Linked DNA regions of Homo sapiens. The protein of the gene in region 4 interacts with the protein of the main gene of each other region in a biochemical or structural test. Each region holds a gene or a part of one and is shown on either strand. Other genes may lie near its edges.

What was found.
Region 1: the proteins of ERBIN (region 4) and SMAD3 form a complex in vitro, tested with the Homo sapiens proteins (2 studies listed by BioGRID).
Region 2: the proteins of ERBIN (region 4) and ATP2B4 interact in a test that uses a peptide from one of them, tested with the Homo sapiens proteins (2 studies listed by BioGRID and IntAct).
Region 3: the proteins of ERBIN (region 4) and SMAD2 form a complex in vitro, tested with the Homo sapiens proteins (2 studies listed by BioGRID).

The regions. Positions count from the first base shown.
Region 1 is NC_000015.10:67,159,602-67,166,628, reverse strand, and holds part of SMAD3 (mothers against decapentaplegic homolog 3), read right to left. Parts: intron 1,735-7,027; coding exon 1,541-1,734; intron 1,377-1,540; coding exon 1,245-1,376; intron 469-1,244; exon of another isoform or gene 436-468; intron 99-435; exon of another isoform or gene 1-98. UniProt on the Homo sapiens protein: Receptor-regulated SMAD (R-SMAD) that is an intracellular signal transducer and transcriptional modulator activated by TGF-beta (transforming growth factor) and activin type 1 receptor kinases.
Region 2 is NC_000001.11:203,720,823-203,727,849, reverse strand, and holds part of ATP2B4 (plasma membrane calcium-transporting ATPase 4), read right to left. Parts: intron 6,654-7,027; coding exon 6,440-6,653; intron 5,373-6,439; coding exon 5,161-5,372; intron 3,970-5,160; coding exon 3,862-3,969; intron 456-3,861; coding exon 279-455; intron 1-278. UniProt on the Homo sapiens protein: Calcium/calmodulin-regulated and magnesium-dependent enzyme that catalyzes the hydrolysis of ATP coupled with the transport of calcium out of the cell. By regulating sperm cell calcium homeostasis, may play a role in sperm motility.
Region 3 is NC_000018.10:47,843,660-47,850,686, forward strand, and holds part of SMAD2 (mothers against decapentaplegic homolog 2), read right to left. Parts: intron 5,029-7,027; coding exon 4,816-5,028; intron 2,142-4,815; coding exon 2,004-2,141; intron 1,826-2,003; coding exon 1,681-1,825; intron 1-1,680. UniProt on the Homo sapiens protein: Receptor-regulated SMAD (R-SMAD) that is an intracellular signal transducer and transcriptional modulator activated by TGF-beta (transforming growth factor) and activin type 1 receptor kinases.
Region 4 is NC_000005.10:66,020,564-66,027,590, forward strand, and holds part of ERBIN (erbin), read left to right. Parts: intron 1-758; coding exon 759-822; intron 823-2,726; coding exon 2,727-2,801; intron 2,802-3,742; coding exon 3,743-3,887; intron 3,888-4,916; coding exon 4,917-4,989; intron 4,990-5,284; coding exon 5,285-5,414; intron 5,415-5,738; coding exon 5,739-5,854; intron 5,855-7,027. UniProt on the Homo sapiens protein: Acts as an adapter for the receptor ERBB2, in epithelia. By binding the unphosphorylated 'Tyr-1248' of receptor ERBB2, it may contribute to stabilize this unphosphorylated state.

The DNA.
Region 1 (7,027 bases), on a different chromosome or scaffold from region 4:
TTCTGTTGTCCTCGCCCCTGTCCACCTCTGACTCCCGCTTGGATCATAACTGCCTTTGCTCACGCAGGACCGGATCAACTCCCAAGTCTGAAATGTGTACTCCTAGAGCCTCTGCCAGGCTAACTTATCCTGGTCCTTCAAGGTGAGGGTTAAGCCCCACCCCCTCCAGGGAGGCGTCCAGACTTGCCTCCGCCTCACCCCTTTCTGTCCTCTGAAGATCTGCAGGCTCAGACCCACCCTTTGGTCCCTACTATCTTCTTCTGTGCAGACCAGGTGTTATTATTTGTTGTCTCTAAGGGACGTGTCCTCACTCAGCAGTTAGGTTGCAAGTTCAATGACGGCAAAGACAGTGTGATCTATTTCTCTGAAACCTCCCCCAGACCCTGACTGAAGCCCTCCAAGATTTGCTCTTTGAACAGGGAGTAGTTGACTTACCCGCGGGACGCCAGGGCTACCCGCAAAGGATCTGAGAAGGTTGGACAGTGGGTCTCCTCCTTAACACTCTGACCCAAGCACACAGGCCTGTAGCCAATCTCAGCCCAGTAAACTAACCCAGGATGAACGTCACGTCCAAATTAGAATGCTCTAAGAGGAACGCAGCAGGATTACTGCCCCAGCAAGCAAAAGTGACTAGCCCAAGTGCTGCCAAGCACAGCTTTCCTGGAGTCTGAAAGTGCTGGTGATTCACACGTTATTTGCATGTAAATGAGGGGCTTCTAAAAACATTTGCAGTCTTTGACGGCAAAGCCCATTTCTCCCTGCAGAGTGAAAACTCAAAGTCACTTCAATTCCCACCCAGGTTGGAGCCCCTCACCGAGGCCTGATGCCCAGGCGAATTTACAGAGCCAGCTCTCCGCACTTGCTGCCTGGCCCTCAGCTCACTCCCCGCCTCTGCAGACCCCCAGTCTATTGGGACTGAACACCAGTCCGGGCCTCAAGGGCGGTGAGAGAAACAGTGTTGCTATTTCCGCTTCCAAAATAAATGACTGCACCAAGGCCGGGCGGAAGGGTCACGCTGCTCCTCTATGCCAAGAAAAGCATCACTAGTGAGGGGGGAGCTGAGGTCATGGGTCCTCTCCCAACAGGGATGCGGTTCTGAGTCAGGGGCCCTCAGGCCAGAGCTGTGCGCAAAGAGGGGGTGAGCGGGGGACGGCCAGGGGGCAGAGATTGGGGCCACAGGACTGATGTCGGGGCTGACCGCTGCCCCTGCCTCCCAGGCCAGCCTGTGCCGCCCACGTGCCTACCTGGAATATTGCTCTGGGGCTCGATGCCTGCGGGGAAGTTAGTGTTTTCGGGGATGGAATGGCTGTAGTCGTCCAGTGGGGGGAACTCGGCCGGGATCTCTGTGTGGCGTGGCACCAACACAGGAGGTAGAACTGTCCGGGGGAGACAGAGCAGAGGTGGCTCAGTGTCGATGCCAGACCAGCACCAAAGTCCCCGCACCCCCAAGTGCACCGCAGACCCTCGGGGGGATGGGGAGCCGGGGAGAGGTGATGACCCCTGGCACCTGCTGTCCCCACAGGCAGGCCAGGCAGCATACCTGGTGTCTCTACTCTCTGGTAGTGGTAGGGATTCACGCAGACCTCGTCCTTCTTCATATTGAAGGCGAACTCACACAGCTCCATGGCCCGTAGCTCGTGGTGGCTGTGCAGGTCTGGCCATCGCCACAGGCGGCAGTAGATGACATGAGGGAGCCCCTTCCGATGGGACACCTGCAACCGGCCATCCAGGGACCTGCCAGGACGGGGAGGGGCAGAAAGAGAGGGAAATGTGGATTGTGCTTGCTTTCTGCAGAGTCCGGCCTCCTACTTTCAGACACTTGGAAAGCTCTCTCTCCCCTCATTTCTCCCAGATCCAGAGGTCCAGGAGATCAGAGCACTGCTAGCTGAGAGTGCTGGGAGGGATCTCAGGAGAAGACAACAAAGGCCCCGTGAGGACTCCCAGCTGGCAGAGCGGGCCTCACCCACCAGTCCCCGGTGGGTTCCCCAACTTTGTACTGCTCTTCAGGGAGTGGCATTCCATGGGAAGGGCCCGCACTTCAGTCACTTCAGTTGTGCTTGGAAAAGGTCCAGGAGCCACTCATCGGCTTCCTACTCAGCCCAGAGGTGTGGAGAGGGGACAGGGCTGGGGAAGACAATGAGAGTTCTTTAGGCACAGATATGAGGACTACAGTGATCCAAAGAAGAGTGACAAAGTACAAAGGCTGTCTCCCCTCATTCACTCAGGTCTTCCCTTGCACATTAGAAAGTCAGGGGAAAAAAAGAAAACTTGCCTTTCCTCCTCTTTTTTTTTTTTTTTTTTTTTTTTTTTTTCTGAGACGGAGTCTCGCTCTGTTGCCCAGGCTGGAGTGTAGTGGCGCCATCTCGGCTCACTGCAAGCTCTGCCTCCCGGGTTCATGCCATTCTCCCGCCTCAGCCTCCTGAGTAGCTGGGACCACAGGCACCCGCCACTACGCCCAGCTAATTTTGTTTTTGTATTTTTAGTAGAGACGTGGTTTCACTGTGTGAGCCAGGATGGTCTCGATCTCCTAACCTCGTGATCTGCCCGCCTCAGCCTCCCAAAGTGCTGGGATTTCAGGCGTGAACCACCGTGCCTGGCCCCTCCTTTCTTTTTTAGTTATTTGTGGTGAGCAGGGAGTGAAAGACGGAAATTAAAGGGATTTTTTTTTTTTTTTTTTTTTTTTTACTTTTGATACAGGGTGTTGCTCTGTCACTCAGGCTGGAGTGCAGTGGCATGATCTCGGCTCACTGCAACCTCCGCCTCCCAGGCTCAAGTGATCCTCCCAGCTCAGCTTCCCAAGTAGCTGGGACTGCAGGGGCACACTACTGTGCCTACTTACAATTGGCCAGTGCCATGACCCTGTGTGAACCATGTCTTCTATGGTGATTTGGCCAAGCAGCTATGACCCGGTGCCCTTACCTCTCAAGCCAGGCCAAAGTGTGGTCCCTGACCAGCAGCAGAGGTTCAGGGAAGTTTGTTAAAAATGTACATTCTCAGCGCCTACCCCAACCTACTAAATCAGAATCTTTCCCTTTGTGAAATCCCCAGGTGATCTGGATGATGAGAGTCTGGGTGGCTTACAGGAAAGGACTGGGGAGCTTGGGGCGGCAAAAGCATTGTCAGCTACAGGCAAGGCTGGGAGGCAGAAGGCTTCTGGAGGGACGTAAAACTTCAGATAGTGTCTGGTATTAGACAGGTGAGGAGGTGCCACTAAAATGGAGTCCCTTATTTAACACATATTTAATGAGCACCTATTATGTGTGACACTAAGGATACAGTGGTAAGGAAAGAGACTTCACTATGAGAAAAGGCCAGCAAAGTGGTCCCTGTCTGCAGGGACCCTCCATTCCACTGGGCAAGACCGGCATTAATCAAATAATCACCAAAACCACTTTGGGAGGCCGAGGCGGGTGGATCGCTTGAGGCCAGGAGTTCAAAACCAGCCTGGCCAACATGGTGAAACCCTGTCTCTACTAAAAGTACAAAAATCAGCCAGGCATGGTGGCGGGCGCCTGTAATCCCAGCTACTCAGGAGGCTGAGGCAGGAGAATCACTTGAACCTGGGAGGGGGAGGTTGCAGTGAGCCAAGATTGTGCCACTGCACTCCAGCCTGGGCGACAGAGCAAGACTCCGTTTCAAATCATCATCATCATCATCATCATCATCATCATCATCATCATCACAGAAACCTACAATTACACACAATGAAAGTGTCCTGAACGAAAATAACAAGGAACCCCAAGAGTGTATGACCATGGCACCCCACTTTGCTGAAGGACTGGACAGGGCATCTCAGAGGAGGTGATGGTTGACCTGAAGGCCTAAAGGGTAAGTAAGAACTAACCAGGCAAAGGGGTGCGGGAGAAGGGCAGTACAAGCAGAGGGAAAGGCACACACAAAGGCCCTGTGGAAAGTGGAAAACATGGTGAGGTCGGAAGAACAGAATGAAGGCCAGAAGGACTGGAGAGGGGATCATGAGAGAGAGCTGGCTTGAGACGAGGCCGGGGAGGCAGGCAGGGGTACTCTGCAGGGCCCCAAAGGCCATGATAAAGGCTTCTCCTGTTTTCTAAAAGCAGTATGTAGCCTCTGAGATGTGTAAGTGGGCTGTGCATACGTGTGAAAGAGACAGGCCCTGTGGAACTCTGGCTACGTGTGACCAACAGATTGCGGGTAGCAGGGATAGAAGTGGGGAGCAGATGAGATGGATGCTCATGAGTCACAGGTACCCTATTAAGAGGCAGGACTGCTTTTTCTTCAAGGAGGCCCATCCTAGGACCCTGCCAGTCAGTGCCATAATTTTTCTAATAGCTGGCAGGGCTGGCAGTGAGACATTTGCAAGCTTTCCCTCTGTGCCTTCTTATGACCGAGGGCACCCATTTGCCTGAATACAGAGAATTCATGGGCACTCTGTGAAGGAAGGGCTGGCCAGATGCCACCAACAGCACCAACCAAAGAGAGAAACAGAGGGATCCAATCACACTCTCCAAGCCACTGGCCTGGGAAGGGGAAAGGACAGACAAAGGTCATAGCTGGGCTTGGTCACAGGAACTGACCTGGAGCTGCTGACTAAGGGCATCTTGAAGGATGTAATTACCTTCCTCCCTTGGGGCCCCAGAACAAGGAAGCCCTACAGCTGAAAAACAGTAATTACCAGGCAGATCGAGAAGACAGCCTGGGACTCGTCCCTGAGGTATAAAAGGAGGACTGGCGGATGTGGAGCCATAAGACCTGGGGTAAAGGAGGGTTCTACTCTCCTAGCTGGGAGACACTGGGCAGCTCATGAGCTTCCTAGGACACTCAGTTTTCTCATCTATAAAATGGGGTATTCTGCCCCCCGACCTCCTGAAGCTTGGTTTCCATTTGAAAGTGCTTCATAAACACCCACAAATTAGCGTTATTATTCTCTATCACAGCAGATACTCCCCAAACCCAGCCCTGGATAAGTAGGGTGAGCTGGAGGTTGAACAGGAGTAAAAGGGAGAGTGGGAAGTGGTGAGTGGGAATAGAGAATTATTCAGCTGTTCTCCTTCTCCTGCAAAGCCACTGGGTGCCCACAGATTAGGGAAGTGGCCGTATTTGCTCTTCGGTGTTTGACAAAACTCCCAAAAAAGGGCCAGCTGGACATCATAGCCTCCTCTGCAAGAGAAGGCCTTGGAGAAAAGCTCATGCCAGCAGCGGGGGAGAATGGGGCTGTGGAGGTAAGCTCCATCTAGGTGATAGAAGTGGGTGGCCCTCTTGCCTTAGTAGTAATATTAATCATACATGAATCACTTGGATATTAATTAAACTTTTAAAAACAAGGGAGCTACAATAATCAAGGCAGTATGGTAATGGCACAAGGACTGACAAACGGATCAATGGAACCTAACAGAGTCCAGAAATAGTTACATATATATGGACGACTGGCTTCAACAAAGGTCCAAAGACAATTTAGTGGAGCAAGGACAGTCTTCAACAAATGGTGATGTAACAACTGGATATGTAAAAAAGATAATCTTCAAACTACACATTGTAACCCTATACAAAAACAAACTGAAGTGAAACTTAAACTCTAAAATGTCTAGAAGAAAACAGGAGAAAATCTTTGTGACTTTTTGGGATAGACAATGATTTCTCAGATACCACACCAAAAAGCACTTAATAATAATAAAAAAAAAATCAGACCGCATCAAGATTTAAGCCTCTGGTCTTTGAAAGACACTGTTAAAGGAATAAAAAGGCAAGCACTAACTAAGAGAAAATATTTGCAAAGCGTATATTTGATAATAGACCTGTTTCTAGAACTCTGAAAACTCAATATTAACAATTCAATCTTCTTTTTTTTTTTTTTTTTTTTTTTTTTTTTTTTTTTTTTTTTTGAGATGGAGTCTCGCTCTGTCGCCCAGGCTGGAGTGCAGTGGCACAACCTTGGCTTACTGCAAGCTCCACCTCCTGGGGTCACGCCATTCTCCTGCCTCAGCCTCCCGAGCAACTGGGACTACAGGCGCCTGGCACCGCGCCCGGCTAATTTTTCGTATTTTTAGTAGAGACGGGGTTTCATGTGTTAACCAGGATGGTCTCGAACTCCTGACCTCGTGATCCGCCTGCCTCGGCCTCCCAAAGTACTGGGATTACAGGCGTGAGCCACTGCGCCCAGCCAACAATTCAATCTTTTAAAAAAGAGATACATGATTTGAACAGACACTACCCAGAAAGATATGAAGACAACAAGCATATGAAAAGATGCTTGACAATGTTGATCATTAGAGAAGCACAAATTAAAACTACAATGAGATAGGACTACATACTTATTAGAATGGCTACAATTAAAAAGCCTGATCATGCCATGTATTGGCAAGGATGTGGAACAACTGGAACTCCCTTCCACTGCTGGTGCAAATGTAAAATGGTACAACTATTTTGGAAAACAGCTTGGAAGTTCCTTTCTAAAATATTTTATTTTGGGGGATACACAGTAGCTATACATATTTATAGGGTACTTGCGATATTTTGATACAAGCATACAATGTGTAATGATCAAATCTGGGTAATTGGGATATTCATCCCTCAAACATTTGGAAGTTTCTTAAAAAGCTAAAAAACCATAAGCCTACCATATGATCCACCATTCCACTTCAAAGTATTTACCCAAGAGAAATAAAAGCCTATGTCCAAAGACTTGTGCATGAATGTAATAGCCCCAAATTGAAAACTACTCCACATGTATTAACAGATGAATGAGCCATAACATATCCATACAAAGAAATACAACTCAGTAACAAAAAAGGATCAACTACTGATACATGCAACGCTATGAATGAATCTAAATTAATGATGCTGCGTGAAAGAAGCCAGGCATGATTCTGTTCGTGTAAAATTATAAGGTAATTTAAACTAAAGTAAAAGGCACACTAATCTTAATCTAGTGACAGAAAGCAGGGATCAGTCATTGCCTGGGGACAGAGGGAGTTACAGGGAGGGAGTAGGGATTGGAGGGAGCAATTACCAAGGTGCACTTGGAAACTTTTTTGGGGGTAAAGGTTATGTA
Region 2 (7,027 bases), on a different chromosome or scaffold from region 4:
GATAGAGGGTGGCAGGCTGGGCTTTAGGGTCAACCCAGAGCTAAAGGACTATGCTAATAGTGTCCCATGGTCTAGGTCATTTGACTCCTCTCCTCTCAGAGGACCCCACACAGATCCTTTTGCGTGTCTGTCCTGAAGCTGAGGATCTAGGGCTGCCCATCAGTAGTGAGCCTTTGGAAGGGAAGAGATGCTGGCCGACAAGAACTGCTACCCTCCCAACACCTTCCAAGATGGGAAGCTGCTTCTCCCAAGGGAAGGACAGACCACTATCAGAGTACCTGAGTCTGGATACGGTTCAGGCCCCGGAACCAGAGGATCTGGCCTCGGCGCAGCTCCATCTCAGCATGGTCAATCTCATCCAGTCCCTCGGCATCCTTGGTGATCTCCTCTTTGGTGGTGCCATGCCCAGCCTCCTTCAGGAACTTCAGGGATCGGGTAGGTATTGCGGAGATGAACTGAAAACAAGCGCAGCGAAGAGGAAGACGTCAGAATCAGCGTGAGAAGAGCTGTCAGTCAACTTACATGAGCCAGGCCCTTGGGCAGGTTACTCTTTGCCCTACCACCCTTCCCACTGGAAGAGCAGTGGGCAGAAGCACCAATCCATCCAGGCAAGCATTCTCCAAGTGCCCACCAGCGGTCAGGCTTTTAGGAAGGTTTTCTGTATTTATGGACACACACAAAAGAGAGCTTCTATTCTAGTAATTGACCAGCCATCTGCCTGGTCATATACTTCATTTTCCTCTTTCTGTCTCATTTCTTCTGTTCCATTTTGCAATCTGTCTTTTAAGGTTAACAGAACTATACAGCATGGTACGCAGTAGGAAGAAACAGAGACCAGGACCTGGGGGAAAAGAGTTTGGGGAGAAGATGGTGATATTGCCTATGTATAGGCAAGGGGTTGAGAAGGGTATTGGAAATGAATGACCCCTTTCTTAGTTGCCACATGCAAAGTAGTTTCTGTGTTACAAACTCTTGTGAAAGGATACCAAAAGTTTTCTTGGGCTTGAGGTGAGGAAGTGGATGGGACAGTCCATAGAAGAGGGGTCACATGAGTATTATCAGAAGACAAGGAGCAGTACATAGGGTTTGAAATTTGAAATAAATTTCCCGGTGAGCTCAGCACCTGTCAGTCAGTTCTTTCCGGACAAGATAAGGAGTAGCCAGGGCTCATGTGGGGAAGAGGGACTGTATGGGCAATCTGATATGGAGTCAAGGGTTTTGAAATGGGAAGAATGCCAGAGCTCTGCCTCTGAATGTGGAAAAAGCTGTTGTGATACAGAAGGAAGGCTGCTGTCTGGCAGCAAGGCCACATGGCCACATGTGAGGCAAGAGCCAGAACAGAGTTTCAAACAACAGGTTTAACAACCAAGCTTTACCAAAGCATAAAACTGCTTTAGGAACCCATTGGTAAAAAAAAAAAAAAAGAAATCTTCACCAAACAGAACAGGGTGGAGGGAATTGGGTCAGACATTAATTAGGGAGGGCTGGGTGCAGCGGTTCATGCCTGTAATCCCAGCACTTCGGGAGGCCGAGGCAGGAGGATTGCTTGAGCCCAGGACTTTGAGATCAGCCTGGCAACATAGTGAGACCCCAATCTCTTTATTTTTTGTTTTTCGACATAGAGTCTCACTCTTGTCATCCAGGCTGGAGTGCAGTGCCGTGATCTCAGCTCATTGCACTCCGCCTCCCGGGTTCAAGCAATTCTGCTTCAGCCTCCCAAGTAGCTGGGATTACAGGCATGTGTCACCATGCCCGGCCAATTTTTTTTTTTTTTTTTTGTATTTTTAGTAGAGACAGGGTTTCACCATGTTGGCCAGGCTGGTCTCGAACTCCTGACCTCAGGTGATCTGCTCGACTCAGCCTCCCAAAGTGTTGGGATTATAGGTGTGAGCCACTGCGCCTGGCCTGAGACCCCCATCTCTTAAAAAAAAAAAAAAAAAAAAAAGAAAAGAAAAGAAAAGAAAAAGAAATTATTCAGGGAGGCATCTAGGTATGAAATAAATAACTAGCAGGTTTAGGGGAGAAGGCCTGCAGCTCCAGAAATGGCTCTTTGAGGCCAGTTAGGGCAAAGTGTCCATTACCTGGGTGGCTGGACACTAAGGGATTATCTGCAGAGACCTGGGGTCTGTAAAGAGAGGTATAGCCCAGGCCAGAGCTGAGGATGAGGGAGGTTTGTAAAGTGGTATTAAGGAAGAAGTGAAACTATTAGACTTAATGATACTATTATAATCGTAATAGTTTAAAATTTGATTATTTATAAGGAATAAGACATTATTCATTACTGTATAGTAACTGATTCACTAATTAACAATGACCTTGTTTTCCTAAGCTGAAGACACTGAGACACAGATTGGTTATGTAACTTGCCCAAGATGATTCAGCTTATAAAAAGGAGAGCTGAGGCTGGGCACGGTGGCTCAGGCCTGTAATCCTAGCACTTTCGGAGGCCATGGCGGGTGGATCACCTGAGATCAGGAGTTTGAGACCAGCCTAGCCAACATGGTGAAACCCTGTCTCTACTAAAAATACAAAAAATTAGCTGGGCGCGGTGGTGGGTGCCTGTAATCCCAGCTACTTGGGAGGCTGAGGCAGGAGAATTGCTTGAACCTGGAGGGTGGAGGTTGCAGTGAGCCAAGATTGCACCATTGCACTCCAGCCTGGGCAACAAGAGCTGGGCCAGGTGCGGTGGCTCACACCTGTAATCCCAGCACTTTGGGAGGCCAAGGCAGGCAGATCACGAGGTCAGGAGTTCCAGACCAGCCTAGCCAACAAGGTGAAACTCCGTCTCTAGTAAAAATACAAAAATTAGCCAGGTGCGGTGGTGGTTGCCTGTAATCCCAGCTACTTGGGAGGCTGAGGCAGGAGAAATTGCTTGAACCCAGGAGGCAGAGTTTGCAGTGAGCCGAGATCACACAACTGCACTCCAGCCTGGGTGACAGAGCAAGACTCTGTCTCAGAAAAAAAAAAAAAAAAAAAAAAAAACAGAGAGCTGGATTCAAACCCAGGCAGTCATTCCCAGAGTCCATGCTCTGAACCACAGGCCATACTGCTACTCTAGAGATCTTGTAAATCTGAATTTATCTCAGGTAAGAGTTAAGAATTCCACCCAGATAAAGCCATGGCAAGAAAGAGAAGAGGCTGGAAACCCTGAATTATGTCAGCTCGACAGCCCATAGCCAGGTTGCTGCCTCATGAGAATAAAGACATGTGTCTTGTAAACTCTTCTACTTCTAAGACCCTTATTATATATTTTTTTTTTGTAGCAAAATTCCATTGAAAAGTTTGGTTTCTGTCTCAGAGAAGCTAAGGGATTTTTCTTTTTTTTTTCTTTTTGACACTGAGTCTTGCTCTGTCGCCCAGGCTGGAGTGCAGTGGCGCAATCTCGGCTCACTGCAAGCTCCACCTCCCAGGTTCACGCCATTCTCCTGCCTCAGCCTCCCGAGTAGCTGGGACTACAGGCACCTGCCACCATGCCCAGCTAATTTTTTGTATTTTTAGTAGAGACGGGGTTTCACCATGTTAGCCAGGACGGTCTTGATTTCCTGACCTCGTGATCTGCCTGCCTCGGCCTCCCAAAGTGCTGGGATTACAGGTGTGAGCCACTGCGCCCAGCCAAGCTAAGGGATTTTTCTACCTCCAGGCTTAGTTAGAGAAGAATTCTGAAACCTCTGAAGTGATCATTCCACCTTGAGATCCTATGAGATGGCAAGAACTTGAAAACTTGAGTGGGGGTGGGGAGGGAAGAGGAGAAGATGAAGATGAGGAGCTGGGGGGTCTCCACCGTTGCTTGTTCCATCTCATGTAGAGGAGGGGAGTTCTGCAGGCTGTGAGAATGCACCAGGAGGGTGTGCCGGTACTCACCTGGCCCCACAGAAGTTCTCCAATCCCAATGAAGAGACACCACAGCCACTGAGACAGGCTGAGGCTTGTACAACTGAAGGGTTTACCCCCAAATTCCACGATGAAAATCTAGAACAGAGAAAGGGGCAGCCCACCATCAAGGAAATGACTAACAGGCAGCTGGCCCTCCAGCCAAGGCCCCCAAAGCCACATCATCCCACTCCTCAGGATCCTTGGGTACAAGTCCCGATTTGCTTGCAGGGGAAGGGAAAAGAAGAAATCTCAAAGGGGAGACAGACAAAAACAGCCTTTAAGAGCACTCTGATGGGGAGACAGACATAGTTACTGTGACTATGATTAACAGACAATCTGGAGGAGTTAGGGGAGCTGGTGGCTTCTTGTGACTAAAGCCAGTTAGTGACAAGGAGAAGGTACAGTGATGGAGTTAGGAACTGAGGATGAGGTGGGAGGATTGCCTGAACCTGGGAGACTGAGGCTGCACTCCCCCTGGGGGAGGGGGGAAAAGAGAGAGAGAGAGAGAGGCAGAGGGAGAGAGAGAGAGAGAGAGAGAGAGAGAGAGAGAGAGAGATATCTGTCTCAAACGAAAAAAAAAAAAACAAAAAGAAAAAATGGCAGGCGTAATAACACTTTGGGAGGCGGGAGGATTGCTTGAGGCCAGGAGTTTGAGACCAGCCTGAGCAACAGAGTGAGACCCCATCTGTATTTTTAAAATTAAAAAAAAAAAAAAAAAGGAATTGAGGATGGGGACAAATAAAGGGAGGTGCCCTGCTGAGGGATGGGACATGATCAGCTCATAGTCTCATATTGGAGGAGTCCAAGCTGGGCTGACTATGTAATATACATGTACAAATCCCATTACTTCTCTTTCTTTGAGTTGCACAACACTTTTTATCATAAGCCCTTCAGAACAAAGGGCAGGGACAGGGAGAGTCTATACTAGATGTGCATGCACATTTCATATAGGCTGACAGGAGCCATAGAAAGGGACTAGAAGAGAATACTTCTTTTGGTCATTCTGTGAAATTTCTGTGTATTTAGAAAGATCATGAAAGGATTTTAGAAGTATTATTTTATTTCCAGTCAACATGCTGCCCTGCACTGGAGCTCTTGACACAATGGGCTCCAATTCTAGAGCAATATGCAAAAGAAAGCAGATTGGGAATCCCAAAGTGTTCAACTTACAGCTCCAGTCCCCGTAATTCCTTCATTCCTTTTCCTAGGTATGTAGGGAACCCTGGCTCCCAGCTTCTGCCCTTTATCATTCCAGATCTCCTGCCCCAACTGCAGATAGAATCTCACCTGGCAGATGAATGTGCCCAAGACTACAGAGCAGAAGATAATGTTGCGGTAGATGCCTGAAAAGACGTTCTTCTCTCCATGGATCTTTCGGGAGTTGATTTCATTGAAGAGCTGCATCAGCACGAAGGTGTTAAAAACAATGGTATAGTGCTGGCTGGGTGGTGAATGTAGAGGTGCCTTCCTCCCACTATCAATATCAAAGAATTTCTCACCTAGTGGGGAGAGGAGAAGCACTGGAGGTTAAGTGTGGTCTGAACTAAGAGTAAGAATGTGTTGGTACAGATATACTGCTTGCTTATGGCTGGTGTCCATTCTAATTAATCAATATCTGAGCTGCACTAGTTATTTATTTTTTTGACACAGGGTCTCACTCTGTCACCCAGGCTGGAGCGCAGTGGCATGATCATGGCTCACTGCAGCCTGGACCTTCCTGCTCAAGTGATCCTTCCATCTCAGCCTCCCAAATAGCTGGGACTACAGGCGTGCACCACCATGCCTGGCTAATTTTTTGTTGTACTAGTTATTAAACATTTTAAATGTTAGTTCTGGTCTTGACTTATTTTACCTTCTCTCTCAGTTTGCTGCATTGATACTTGCTCTCATGTAGTGCAGCATGGTAGTAAGACTATGTGCGCTGGAGTCAGGCAATCATAGGTTTGAATTTTACTGCAACTATGTACTCATTATGGGACCTGAGGTTAATTTTTTGAATCTGTAAAAAAAGAAATAAGCCAGGCGTGGTGGCTCATGCCTGTAATCCCAGCACTCTGGGGGGCTGAGGTGGGCAGATCACAAGGTCAGGAGATCGAGCCCAGCCTGGCCAACATGATGAAACCCCATCTCTACTAAAAATACAAAAAGTAGCCGGGTGTGGTGGCGCATGCCTGTAATCCCAGCTATTTGGGAGGCTGACGCAGGAAAATCACTTGAACCTGGGAGGCAGACGTTGCAGTGACCCGAGTTAGCGCCACTGCACTCCAGCCTGGGTGACAGAGCGAGACTCTGTCTCCAAAAAGAAAAAAAAAAAAAAAAAAAGAAAGAAAGAAATAATAAAGCCTCCCTTGTGAAATTCTTGAGTACACACAGTACACACTGTACTCAAGAGTACTGTATGAGTACATATAGTAGCATAATGCACCGTGTAGCGGGAGCACAGCAAGCACTGGGAGGTGAAGCTGCGCTTATTCCTGACCTGTGCACTTGCTCTCACGCTACCTTCTTTCTCTGCCCCCACCTCCAACCAGGACCCCAGCTGCTACCCACCCCCAAAGTGGCTCACCCGCAAAGACAAGGATAAAGATGACAATGAGCTGATAGAATGCATGGCCCAAGATGTTCTTCATCATAGTGCGTGAGATCAGAGGCTTATTTCGGCCATAGGGGCGCCGCTTCAACAGAGATTCCGTAGGGGGCTCTGTGGCCAGGGCCAATGAAGCAAAAGTGTCCATGATCAGATTAACCCACAACATCTGCACAGCTTTCAATGGGGAATCCTGGCGGGGAGAAGAACCAGTCCTTTTAGCTTTTCTCTGAAACCAGCCCACCTTTGCCCTGTCGATGGCCCAGCTCCCACGACCCACCTAGACTTGGAATCTGGCCACTTCCTAGCTGAGTGACTGTGAGAAAGCTACTTAACTTCCTTGAGCCTCAAGTTCCTCACCCATAAAATGGGGATAATAATACCTACTTCACAAGGTCATTTTTGAAGAATACAGATAGTGCATATAAATGCTTATTACAGTGGCTGACACATAAGTGCTAAGCTAAGGCCTGTAAGTTACCATCTACATAAGCAGATGAAGACAGCAGACTTAGAAGAGCTAACTCCTGTCCCAATGTCATGGGGAAACGCTGTCTTTACTCTTCA
Region 3 (7,027 bases), on a different chromosome or scaffold from region 4:
ATGGATATTTGCCATTTTGATTTGTAAATGTTACAGGAAACTACTTGATTTTCCAAAGTCAGATGTACCTGACTCCCAATACTCATAAAAACATACTGCATATTACTGCTTCTGTAATTACAGATTTTACTTTATCTGTGAGTTAAAGAACAGCAGAGTCCACAGTGAATGAAGAAGGGCAGTATCTTTACCAAGTAAAACTGTTCTTAGCAGATCTATAGATACACATGGAATTCTCTCTGTAATTCACTCTTACTTCCACTAAATTCCTACCATATTTTGCATTATTCTAACCTTCTGAAGAACAAAAAAAAGTCTGACCTGAAATCTTATTAGACAATATAATTTAAATCTAATTTTGCTATCAACTCAGGTCAAGTCTAATTTTAAAAAACGGCATTCAGCATTCTTAACAGGTAACAACATCTCAAAAGGGTAATAATCAAAACAGAACTACAGCAAAATCACAAAATGAATTATTCTACCAATATAACTCAGAAAAAAATAGTGACAAGTCTTCATTCTCTGATACAAATATATACCATATATTTTTAAATGTATTCAACAAGTAGACCTCACATTGCACAATCTCAAATCAGATTTCTGACAAAACTTAAGATAGACAAGCAAGTCCAAAACAAATAAATTTGGAAGGGACTAAATTGCTGGAAGAAGCAGGAATACAATCACTATATTACATGAATATTTCTTAAGCAGGCATATGGAGTAAGCAATACGAATTGAAGAAAGACTAAGTATTTTACTTAATTCCTACTCTTAAATATGGTCAAGAAGTCTTCTCTCTCTTTGATGTGAAATCCAATCTATTGTTTAATTCATCAATAATCTAGACTATCTTATCCACTGATGACAAATTAGTTTTTGTAAAACTTAAACATAATTGTTACTACTATCCTTATAAAAGAGGTAAAGAGTCCAGGAGAACTATCTTCCAGTCCCATCTCAACCACTTATAATGTAACCTTGGGCAAATTATCAGCTTTCTATGTCTATTTCCAAATATGTATTAGTTTGAACCATGTGTTACCTGCAACGATGGCAATTTCATATATTTCAACCTTACAAAGAATGAATTGACAACAGAAATAATAATTTTTAGATACTACACTTAAAACAGCACAGTGCCTGGCACATTAGCAAGTATTCCTTCTACTTCTGAATGAAGTTCCTCCTCTTAACCTACATCTAGTTTGTCTCAATTTAATTGTCCAGCCTTATTTTTCTATTCTCCAAACTGAATTGCTATGCTATTGTCAAGATTATCACTTCCCAACTCTGCCCACCCCATTTATGACTATTGAAATCCAATGCACCTTTTACAACTAGATCATGTGCCATCAAGTTTTCCTTGAGCACCGTGTGCAAACATCTCTCCTTCCATAAACTGACATAACCCTTCATATACACCCCTTTTATGATATTTAACACTCTGAATTACGTTAAAATGCACGCCTGTGCATGTTTTAATATCTTCCATAATGGCAGCTCAGTAATTTGCAACAGTTTTGAATTTGGAGGCCTCCAACTTTATTTTACATAAAGATCAGCTGACTCTATAACCTCATTGAAAATAGATACAAATGAACTCCAGAATATGCAAGAATGCAATGAAACATAATTACACTGTGGAAATTTAAGAACCAAATATGTATTTCATACCGGTATTCTGCTCCCCACCCTTTCACAAAACTCATTCTTATGGTGCACATTCTAGTTAGCTGATAGACGGCTTCAAAACCCTGATTAACAGACTGAGCCAGAAGAGCAGCAAATTCCTGGTTGTTGAAGATCTTCAGATTACAGCCTATGATTAAAAAAGGTAAAAGAAATTGTCAAAAGAGTATCATTATTAAAAAGTAATTTTAAAAGGGTTACAAGTTTTAGAATATGAGCATGCAATCATCTACTGATTCCTAAAATTAGCAACAAGAAAAACTAAGCAAGTTGACATGATAGGTTTATGTACATTATTGAATCCATACCTGGTGGAATTTTACACACTGTTGCAGGGTGCCAGCCATATCTCTGATTACAATTGGGGCTCTGCACAAAGATTGCACTATCACTTAGGCACTCAGCAAAAACTTCCCCACCTATGTAGTATAAGCGCACTCCTCTTCCTGAAACAAAATACAAATGAGATTAGTTTTGTAACATTTACTATTTCAGTGTGACTTTGGAAGCATTTTCTTGGAAAAATTCTAAAATGATATAAGGTATTTCCAGGATCTTTTTCACAGATAATGTCTTTCTGAAGTCTAACTTTAAATATACTACTGTATATTTCTCCCAAGTATTTTCTAACAATAATTTTATTGATTTTAAAATACATGTGTACTGACTGAAAGTATTTAAACAATGTAGAAAAAGTACACATAGTAAAATAGTTTCATACAAATGATATATATTAAGATAAGTAAAAGATTGAGTTAATTTTGAAGGAATTCACTAATGTTTGGAGAAATATATCTTCATTACAACTGTAGTTTCTTAGAGATCCCACTTAATGTTAAGAAAAAAGATGTAAAAACATCAAAAAGTCATTTGCCATTTTAAAAACTATATATTATGGTGGAAACCCAACCTCTAGATGTATAAGCATGATTAGGTGAGAAAAAATTCTACTGGGAGATTTTTAATATACTTCTTTCAGAATCTGAGAGATCACAGATGCAAAATAATATGAGATATAAGAATTAAAAAAAAAATTGTGAGAAGCAGAGTTCTAACATGACACCTAAGAGTCTCAGCCCTGAGGTGCACATACATTCTCTGTTAATCAAACACTAGGTGCTGCTGTTAAGGATTTTTTCAGATGTAATTAAGGCAGCAAATCAGTTAACCTTAATCAGGCAATCCTTTAAAAGGGACTAGACTGTCATAGGCTAAGTGATTCAAAGCATGAAAGGTATTCAACACAAGAGACATTCTCCATTGCTGACTTTGAAGATGGATGGCACCATGTGACAAGGAATTCAGGAGGCATCTAGGAGCTGAATTCTGCCACAACCATGTGGGTTTAGAAGAGGACCTCAAGCTCCAGATAAGAACACAAGCCAGCTGATACCTCAATTTTGGCCTTGTTAAACCCTGAAAAGACCGCCTAACCCATGTCTGGACTCCTGACCCACAGAAACCGTGAGGTAAAAAACTGATGTTTTAGGCCACTGAGTTTGTGGTAATTTGTTACACAGCAAAAGAAAACTAATCAAACAACTAACACTCCAGATTTAATACAGAACCTGGTACGGTGGTTCTGTTAAGACTATGGAATATCTGTAAAACAGTCATGCACGTGGTCATTGGGAAAACACTAAGTCCAAAAAGTAGAGATTTTTCAGGCTATATTCCCTGATCAATATCACCTATAAAACTAGAAATAAAAAATTTAAAAAAATCCAATAACGACAGCAATCTAAAACTTTGGAGGGAGAAGAGAATAAGGCAGAGAAAACCCATTAAATTTTTTTGCAGAACCCCAATTAAGTCACAAAAACAAAAAACTATTTTAGTTAAAGCACCTACAGCGACACTGGGTATCTTAATAAGATTATCCAAATTTATACATCAAGCAAGATTTGAGAACTTCCACTTGGAACCAAGTAATAGATCTTCTAGTCACTATCATTTTGCAGTATCAAAATCACACTTTGATAACCAGCATTACTTCTCACAGGAGGTAATGGTTAATTAGAAAAAAAACAGAAGCAAACTACTGTTAAAAGAAGTTACTTTAAGGTGATGAGAATGATGTTCAATTATGAATGGTTCTCACACTTTTTCACTTCATCGTTAAGGAAATACTGAGGACCCCAAAGAGCTTTTGTTTATGTGAATATTATGGAAAATGACCATATTAGATATAAAAACTGAGATTTAAAAAATTCATTTAAAAATCAAATCCATTACATATTAACAATGTTTATAAAAAACAACTGTATTTCCAAAGCAAAAAAAAAAAAAATAGAGTGGCAACATTTCACCATTTTTGTCTATGAAAAACAACTATATTTCCAAAGCAAAAAAAAAAAAAAAAAAAAATAGAGTGGCAACATTTCAACATTCATGTCTAGTGTAACAGAATTGGAGTCTCATTATCAAATCTACATTTCATCTCTTGCAAAATCATATGCATGTAGGCTCTGGAATACTCCACTGTACAGTCATGAGAGTATGAGAGTAGAAATGGCAAACAGCATCTCAGTACTACTATGAAAATAGCTTTGACCTCACAAACTAGCTGAAAGGGTTTCTGGGACTACCAGAAGTCCCCAGACCACATTTTGAGATGTCCCTGAATTATATTTTGAACTATATTAAATGCAGTTCTTGTTTTAGATATCTCATTTCAGATGAACAGCAAGCAGATTTCATTTAATATATAAACTCACCAAAGGGGGAAAAAACCTGGGAGCTATATAAAGAAACTGAAAAAAAACAAAAACAAAACAAAACAAAAAAACATGATTTATAAAAAAGTATTAACCCCCAAATCTGAACATGGCAATTTTATGACTGGTAGAGACTCAGCAAATTAAACTTATCTTAACACATATTTATTGAAGAACTTTCCAGTACCAAGGGTGCCAAATAAAAGTTGAAGAGTTTGCAGCTGAAGCATCACCAGGATCTATTAGAAGCAGTGAAGCCTGTGCACTTAAATGTGTCGGCACTTAAACCACCAGAGAGAAAGCTGGTTTTACTGCACACAAGCTCTTGATGTGGCACACCATGCAATGCCTACATTATGAGTATACAGCATTTATTTTTCACAACAAGGAAAATAAAACATACCTATATGCCTTCTTGTCATTTCTACCGTGGCATTTCGGTTAACATTGGAGAGTAAACCTAAGCAGAACCTCTCTGAATTTGATGGGTCTGTAAAGCCATCTACAGTGAGTGAGGGCTGTGATGCATGGAAGGTTTCTCCAACCCTCTGATTTAATTCATAATATGCTATCGAACACCAAAATGCAGGTTCTGAGTAAGTAACTGGCTGTAAATCTGAAAAAGAAAAAAATAAAAAAATAATAAAAGGAAGAAATGCGTGAACAATTCAAGCCAAAAATAGATTTAATATAATCATCTTTACATGCTCTATGCCAGCCTGCACTGGCAAAAGCTCAGGAAGTAGACATAGTATCTGTATCGGTTTCCACAGATGATACCAGATTTTCAGTATTTTTCACACAAAACTCCAGTTTCATAGATCATACCAGATTTTTTCAAATTTCTCCCATGTCATTAAATCACTTTATGTTGGATTCTTTGTTTTACCAGTAGTTTTAGTCTAGCTCCTGTTCAAATACAAAACAATCATAGGCAAAGTCAGTCAACTTGCCATACTTGGTGCATTTCTAAAGCACATAAAAAAGCTAAAGTGGGGTAAGATAAAGCCAGAGCAAAGATTAATGAGTCAAAAGCCACACAAAGAAAAACAGTAATAATAAAAGGATACAAAATATGACATATTTTTGACATTTGTCTATTTTAACATCAAACTCTTGGTGAGATACCCTAGCTACAAAAAGAGAAAACCCACTCATACATAAGAACCAGAAAGCAGTAACACACAAAGATCATGCAAGTAGAAACAGACCATAGAGTCAAAAGACTACTTATTTCACTGGAAAACTATATATTTAGCTTCTGCAGTTTGACTAAAACATATCATAAGGAATACTGCAAAAGAAAAAAACCTCACAATTTTGTAGAATAAATTCCAAACATGTAACAACCGAAGAGAAATTGTGAAATAGGGTAAAATGAGGGCAAAAATAATAATAGTAATACAGAAATGTATGTATATATATATATATATATATAGTCATCCCTTGGCATTTACAGGGGATTGGTTCTAGGACCGGCTCCCCCTAACTAAAAACCCTTAGATGTTCAAGTCCCTGACATAAAAGGGTGTAGTATTTCCATGTAACTTAAATTCACGTCATCCTGTATACTTTAAATAATCTCTAGATTACTTATAATACCTAATAATATAAATGCTATACAAATATTTGTTATACTGTATTTTAAAATTTGGGCCCAGCACGATGGCTCACGCCTGTAATCCCAGCACTTTAGGAGGTCAAGGTGGGTGATTCGTTTGAGGCCAGGAGTTTGAGACCAGCCTGGGCAACATAGTGAAACCCCATCTCTACTAAAAATACAAAAATTAGCTGGGTGTGGTGGCATGCACCTGTAGTCCCAGCTACTCAGGAGGCTGAGGCAGAGAATTGCTTGAACCCAGGAGGCAGAGGTTGCAGTGAGCCGAGATTGCGCCACTGCACTCTAGCCTGGGCGACAGAGCAAGACTCTGTCTCAAAAAATAAATAAAAATAAATACAATTTGTATTAGTTTTTACTGTCGTATTGTTATTTTCATTTTTTCCCGATTATTTTCAATCTGCAGTTGGTTGAATCTGCAGATGCTGAACTCATGGTTATGAAGGGACCATACACATACACATTTGTACATATATGTGCACACTCTCATATATATATTATATATAGTATATATATATTATTATATATATGTATAATATATATTATATATTATATATTATATATATTATGTATAATATATATTATATATTATATATATTATGTATAATATATATTATGTATGTTATATACATATTATGTATAATATATGTTATATATATTATACATAATATGTATAATATATATTATATATATTATATAATATATATTATATATTATGTATAATATATATAATATATTATATATATTATGTATAATATATATTATATATTATACATAATATATATTATATATTATATATTATGTATAATATATGTTATATATATAATATATATTATGTATAATATATGTTATATATATAATATATATTATGTATAATATATATTATATATTATATATATATTATATATATTATGTATAATATATATTATATATTATATATATATTATATATATTATGTATAATATATATTATATACTATATATATATTATATATATA
Region 4 (7,027 bases):
TGTACAAAAATAGCCACTTAAGAGTGTAAATATTTGTTTGAATTAGTTTCAAAGGGTACCTTTGTAAAAGGAGAGAGAAAAGATAGAAGTGCAACATAGTTTATTTCATTACAAACTGGTTTGTACATCTTTCAAGTTCCTGTAATTTCAGAGAAGTGTTGATGTTAAGTTGGAAGTTAAGAATAGTATATTATTGCTTTTATTTAAAATAAATGTCAACTACTAATTTGTGATTCATATAAAACTTTATTTTGAATTGTATTGTATTTAATTTGAACATGTGGGGAGTAATACAACGTACTGTTAGCATTTTGAATATTAATTTTCGGAGTTACAGTTATCTTAAAGTCTTACAAATATATGAGCAGTTTTGAAAAAGAATTTTTGTAATTATGGTAGTAATTATTATACATCTGCCAACATTTATTAGCTGACTTGTACTATATGAAAATTCATTATGTGAAAAAATAGAAACTCATTATTTGTATTCTGGCTTGTGGGTTTAAATTTATTGCAATTGCTTCTTAAAAATAGAAATGAAAAGACCAATGAGAAGGCAAAATAAGATAATAACTGATAATTATTTTATCTAGAAATCTGACTTTTAAAATTTTTTAGAAAATTAATATTTTTATTTTGTCAACATGTGAAAGCCCATAAATAATTACCTATTCCATAAGAATGTTTTAGACTGTTTTGAAAGCTTCCATGTAATTGATATTTTTCTAGTTAATTTTTCATTACTCCATTATGAACAGAACTATGAATAGACTGACCCAGCTGGAAAGACTGGATTTGGGAAGTAACGAATTCACGGAAGTGGTAAGTTCTCATCAGTCTCACTTTCCCTAAGTTCTTATATTTAATGAAGAACAAAATATGAAAATTAATGTATTTCTCTTACAAATTGGATAAAGGTTTACTTTTTTTTCTTAGTTACAAGATATGAAATTTCTTAGCCAGAACTTTCCAGACAGATAGAAAAATTAACCAGACAGATGAACTTCTGACCACAAGTGAGCATAAAATGTAAAATCAATGAGAGGTCCATGGAAGAGATACTAAACAATTTTTAGCATAGGAAGCAGAAAATTTGAGTGATTATAAGTGGGAAACATCAGTCTGGAATGCAGCAGGTAAAAGTAGTTCTGAATCAGAGAGAGCTCCATGGGGTATTGCTTGTTAACTTATTCAGTAATAAGATACTTCTCTATAATGTTACTTAATAGCTAAGGGGAAAATCATTGAGTGAAACAACTGTTATTTTTGAAGTGGTAATGAGAACCTTTTTGTTTGTGCTTTGTATGCCAAGTGCGCTATGAAGCTGACTCTAAAAGGAAAGGAGTAGTGTTTAAGTAGCTTTTGTCTTTAGTGAGTTTTCCAAAAGAACTCAGAAAATAAGCTAGATTTTTTTTTTTTTGAAGAGGAACTCATCCAGCTGAGTATCATTATTAAACTTTTAAATTAGTTTACAAGTTTGTTGTTTAAAAGTGTGGTAGCTCTCAAATGATGGTTTTAAGCCTAGGAATTTCTCAAAACTGCTTGCTATAGTATTGCCCTGTGGGTATTATATTAATATTATAAATTTCAGCTGAGGTTTGAGGAGGAACATGGTACTTTGGAGTACCTCATTCTCTAAAATACATGCTGTGCTTCCCAAATTATTTATCTGTTACGTCCTTTCTCAATATTTGTTCTGTATGAATCCGTTTCCGTATTAACTATTTCAAAAATCTCGTTCATTTTAAGAATCCAACAAGCTTTCAAAATCGTCATTAGTTTTTGTACCATTTTGGTCTTCCAACATTATACACTTTTTAAAACTTACAGTAGAATTTAACAGTAATGCACAAAAGGAAATTTCTTTTAATCCAAGTTACATCTGGGATTCTTATCTATATTTATATGTTAACAGTAAATCTGATTGGCATGCCTTTTATATATGACTGTTAACTATGGTCATTAGATGTGATAGTACTCTGTGCCATCACATGATCATTGATTGCAGATGGCTTTGTGAGGTGATAGAAATAACTTTGAAGAGGGCAGACTTGAAGGGACAATGCCCAGGAGCAAATTTTGCCTGGATATGAAGGTCTGCCACAACACTTGGATTAATTTTGATGTCCTCAACACCATATTATAAAGAATTTTCTACCATGTAATTAGAAGTTTTTACTAGAGGTTTAAATTACAGTATATTTGTATCATGTAGTTATGACTTTGTCTATTTACCTTTCCCTGATTATGGACATTTAGGATGCACGTTGTCTTTTATCTCCTTCTTAATGAATGTCACCAGGGAACATTTGTAATTTTTCTGTTTTCTAAAAGCTGTATCTTCTTACTGATAATGCATGAGTGCATATTTTTATTGTATACTTCTAAGCAGTGAGTCCTATTTTTTATTTCTTTACAAATTATATAAAAACTTGCCCCTGTTGTGTAATCCAAAGCTTAAATGTGTTTTTTGTAATCTACTGCTATGGCATGTCTCTTTGATTTCTCCATTAATAATTTTCTATAATAATTTTACTGTAGTAACTATAATGCAGTAGAAAGGCTTACATCCTGGCTCTTCTTTTTTATTTTTCCTTCTCCCTGCTCCTTTTATTTAATGATTTGAAACTAAAGGTTATTAGAAATTCCCAGGGCTTCTTTTGCCAGATAAAGACATTCATAAAAATTAATTGAATTACTGCTATCCCCTACCCTAATCCCAACAGCCTGAAGTACTTGAGCAACTAAGTGGATTGAAAGAGTTTTGGATGGATGCTAATAGACTGACTTTTATTCCAGGGGTATGTATATGAGATTTTAAATGGCATCACTTATTTCTGGCTCTCCTTTGCAGTTTTGTGAATTGTACCTTTTATAATTACTTTTAATTAATAAAAAAATTGAATTATTCTTTATTAAACAGAAGCAAATTACTTTTTTTCATGAGCACATTCTTGATTATAATCTAAGAATTCTCATAATAAACATTTGTATGTCTCCTTTTAATACTGTTGAGTGTGTCCTTTCCAATGGTATCACTTGAACTTACGTCCCAATTTGCTTTGCCCAAGGAATTGGTAAACTAGGATATTTTTCATGAACTTTCTGAATTTTTTTTTTTTTTTTTTTTGAGACAGAGTCTCGCTCTGTTGCCCAGGCTGGAGTGCAGTGGTGCGATCTCGGCTCACTGCGAGCTCCGCCTCCTGGGTTCACACCATTCTCCTGCCTCAGCCTCCTGAGTAGCTGGGACTACAGGTGACCACCACCATGCCCAGCTAATTTTTTTTTATTTTTTAGTGGAGACGGGATTTCACCGTGTTAGCCAGGATGGTCTCGATCTCCTGACCTCATTATCCGCCTGCCTCGGCCTACCAAAGTGCTGGGATTACAGGCGTGAGCCACCGCGCCCAGCCGAACTTTCTGTTTTAACAACTGACAAATTGTTTACTCCCATAAAAAAAACCACAAGAATCCCCATATATGCTATTTCCTTAGGAGGTAATGGATACCTGAATTCCCAAAGAATATGTCCTTTGTCACTTCTGCTATGCTACAATTAGTAGAACATCTTAGCTATATTACTGAATACATTTCTAATGGCATTTAAAAAACTACCTGGGAGTCTTCTTTCTTGTATTAGCATTTAATTTTGAATTAAAACTTGGTATCAAGTTTATTCCCTAAACTTTTTACAAATTACTAATGTTAATAGAGTCATTAGATTTTCTTTTTTTACTTATAGTTTATTGGTAGTTTGAAACAGCTCACATATTTGGATGTTTCTAAAAATAATATTGAAATGGTTGAAGAAGGAATTTCAACATGTGAAAACCTTCAAGACCTCCTATTATCAAGCAATTCACTTCAGCAGCTTCCTGAGACTATTGGTTTGTATTGCTTTCAAATTCATGTAATTTTTATTAAAATAAATTCGAGACTTCCACATAATCTCAAATTTCACTTGTTATGAGGTAGTTATACTTCGTTACCACAGGAACGGATTTTATTTGAATTTTTCCTGGTGTGATCAGTTGTACAGTTTGCTCCTTTGTTGACATTACTGTTTTTTATTTACTCTAAGGTAATCTCATTTTTATTTCTAATATATTTAAATTCTTTAAAATAAGTTAACTTATGCAAATTTGGCTTAACTGTTAGCTTTTATTGTCATAGCTTTTATTTTGGTAACTTTTTTCAGTCCTGTTTCATTACAGACACTCAGACAAGAAAACAGATCAGTTGAACAGATCATGAGAGATCTATGATTGAGTCTGTGTAGTTGCTTGTTCAATGATATGTCAATGGAATTGAATTATTTTGATGAAAGGACCCAAAACTTCAATCTTGACATCTTTTTGATGTTTTAATTTAAAAACCAAAAATATTTCTCAGTTAAATCACGTAGTGGTTTTAGCTAAAACTACATTTTTGTAAGTTTGTTACGATTCTACTCTTAGTCAACACTTTTTAAACTTAAAAAATATTTTACTGTTTTAGTATTTAGTATATATGGAATAGTTTTTTATATACCTGTTATGAACTACCTTCATACTACCATTTCTTTAGTCTATTAATTTAACAAGTTTGTATTGTCTGTCTTTTCTGTGCCATGACATTGTTTTTAGAAGCAGAGCTACAACAGTGAACAACGAAGACAAAAAAGTTCCTACTATCAGTATATTTTAGTGGGAGTTAATAAACAAATGTACACTATGTTAAATAGTGATGTGGATGAAGATTGAAAGGACAGGATGAGGGAATAGAACATTGGGATTGGGAGTGGTATCTCTTTTAGATACGTTTGTTAGGAAAGTTGTTTCTAATTCTTGTCAGATGTAGTATGTCTCACACTGACTGTTGGTGGACTTGCTTCTATTTTAAGCTGAAAAATTGTATGTTGTTTCTTCCCTCATTAGGTTCGTTGAAGAATATAACAACGCTTAAAATAGATGAAAACCAGTTAATGTATCTGCCAGACTCTATAGGAGGGTAAGTTTTTTGTGAATGTATACACCCTCGAAGATTTTACTTTCAGTTCAGCATGCCATACATATTTTCAGGTATTTGCATAAATGACCTAAAGATTTTGTAAACATTTAAGTAATTAGTATACAGGTTGAGTGTGTTTATGATAGACAAACCTACTTATTGGTGAAGTTTAGCTTTGTGAAATGGTTTCACTAGGTTTTCAAAGTCAAGTTCAAATGTTTATATGTTCTGAAATTTTGGATTATATATAGGAAATCTTTAACAAATAATATATATTTCTTTTTTTAAATTAAAGGTTAATATCAGTAGAAGAACTGGATTGTAGTTTCAATGAAGTTGAAGCTTTGCCTTCATCTATTGGGCAGCTTACTAACTTAAGAACTTTTGCTGCTGATCATAATTACTTACAGCAGTTGCCCCCAGAGGTAATGTATTTTAGATTTGTTTAGATTTTTGTCTTTTCATTTTTTTCTGATTATCTTCATTATAGCTATTTAGTGTGGCTTCATTTATTTTCTTTCTAAAATAGTTTTCAAGTTATTTATTTTCTGAATAATTAGCTATGTTAATTTAGAAGAGGTTCTTAAATGCTTTCTTATGTACATAAAAATTAATTAAAAAGAAAGTCTAGTCATTATTTCTTCTATAAATGTGAAGTATTTTTCATAACTTTCAAAAATGATGTTTTTTATATGTTGATCAACCTGTAGGCCAAATTTTTTGATACTCAGTTTATATTTCTCTTTCAGATTGGAAGCTGGAAAAATATAACTGTGCTGTTTCTCCATTCCAATAAACTTGAGACACTTCCAGAGGAAATGGGTGATATGCAAAAATTAAAAGTCATTAATTTAAGTGATAATAGGTTCGTAATACTATATTCATCAGTTGGTTTATAGGAGACATTGGTTAGATGAAATTAAGTTTCATATGATATATAATAGAATAGCTAGTGCTTGTTGCTCTTTAAATATACATAGTAAGTTCTCAGTGTTATTGATAGGCTCTTGGAAAGTGTGACTTTCAGTGAAACAACATACAATGAAATCACTTCTTTCGTTCATCAGTGTTATAAGAAAATGACATTATTTGAGAACCTGCCATACACAGTTTTGCTAAAAGTTTTGGTTTCCAAGAACCTATCAATAACTTAAATGAGGACTTAACTGTATATATTTTTTTCTTTAAATACAAAGAGTGGTCTTATTTTATCTGATGTTAATTTATCATACGGTGGTTGTTACTGTTCATTTTGGGTTGACTTAGCTATATAGTCTTTATTCTCTTCTTACAGTTACCTTTTATTTCTGAAGTCACATCTTCACCTGAATATTGCTATTTAACAAAACAATTTTGGAATGTATCTAGTCTGTTGCTAATATTTTCCTAGGCAGAGATCTGGTTTCAACAAAGCCAAGGTGCAGAGTAAATTGATCACTAGGGTTGTAAATTGGAACAATGTTTAAGTTAAAAACAGAATGTCCATACTTTTTCGTGAGGTAAACATACTAATGATGATTAAACAGCATTTGTAGAGTGTTTTCACTTTTTGCTTTCATAGTGTCTTGTGAAGTCTTCAAAACAGCTCTATGAAATAGTATAATAGTATTCCCATTTTATGTAGGAGGGTTTTAAGACTCAGATTTAAGGTGACTCACGTAGCTTGTAAGGTAGAGCTTTAATTTAAACTCAATTTTCTGACTAATTATGATATTCTAACTTCTGTTTTATTTAAAAGAACCACTGCTTTCTTAAGTCACGTTTCAGCCTTTAATTCCTACGGCCCACAGTGGGTTGCTGAAAGAAAGGCACGGAAGACTAGTTAGGTATAAGATAGCAAGGCTGAAGTAGATAATTCTCTCTTAAATAAGATATTTTCATTTAGTATTCTAATGAGTATTTATAGTTGACCCTTGTATTTGTGGGTTCTGCAAGTGTGGATTCAAACAACTTCAGATCAGAAATATTTGGAAAAAAATTGTGTCAGTACTGAACGTGTACCAACTTTCCCATTGTTATTCCCTAAACAATACAGTAT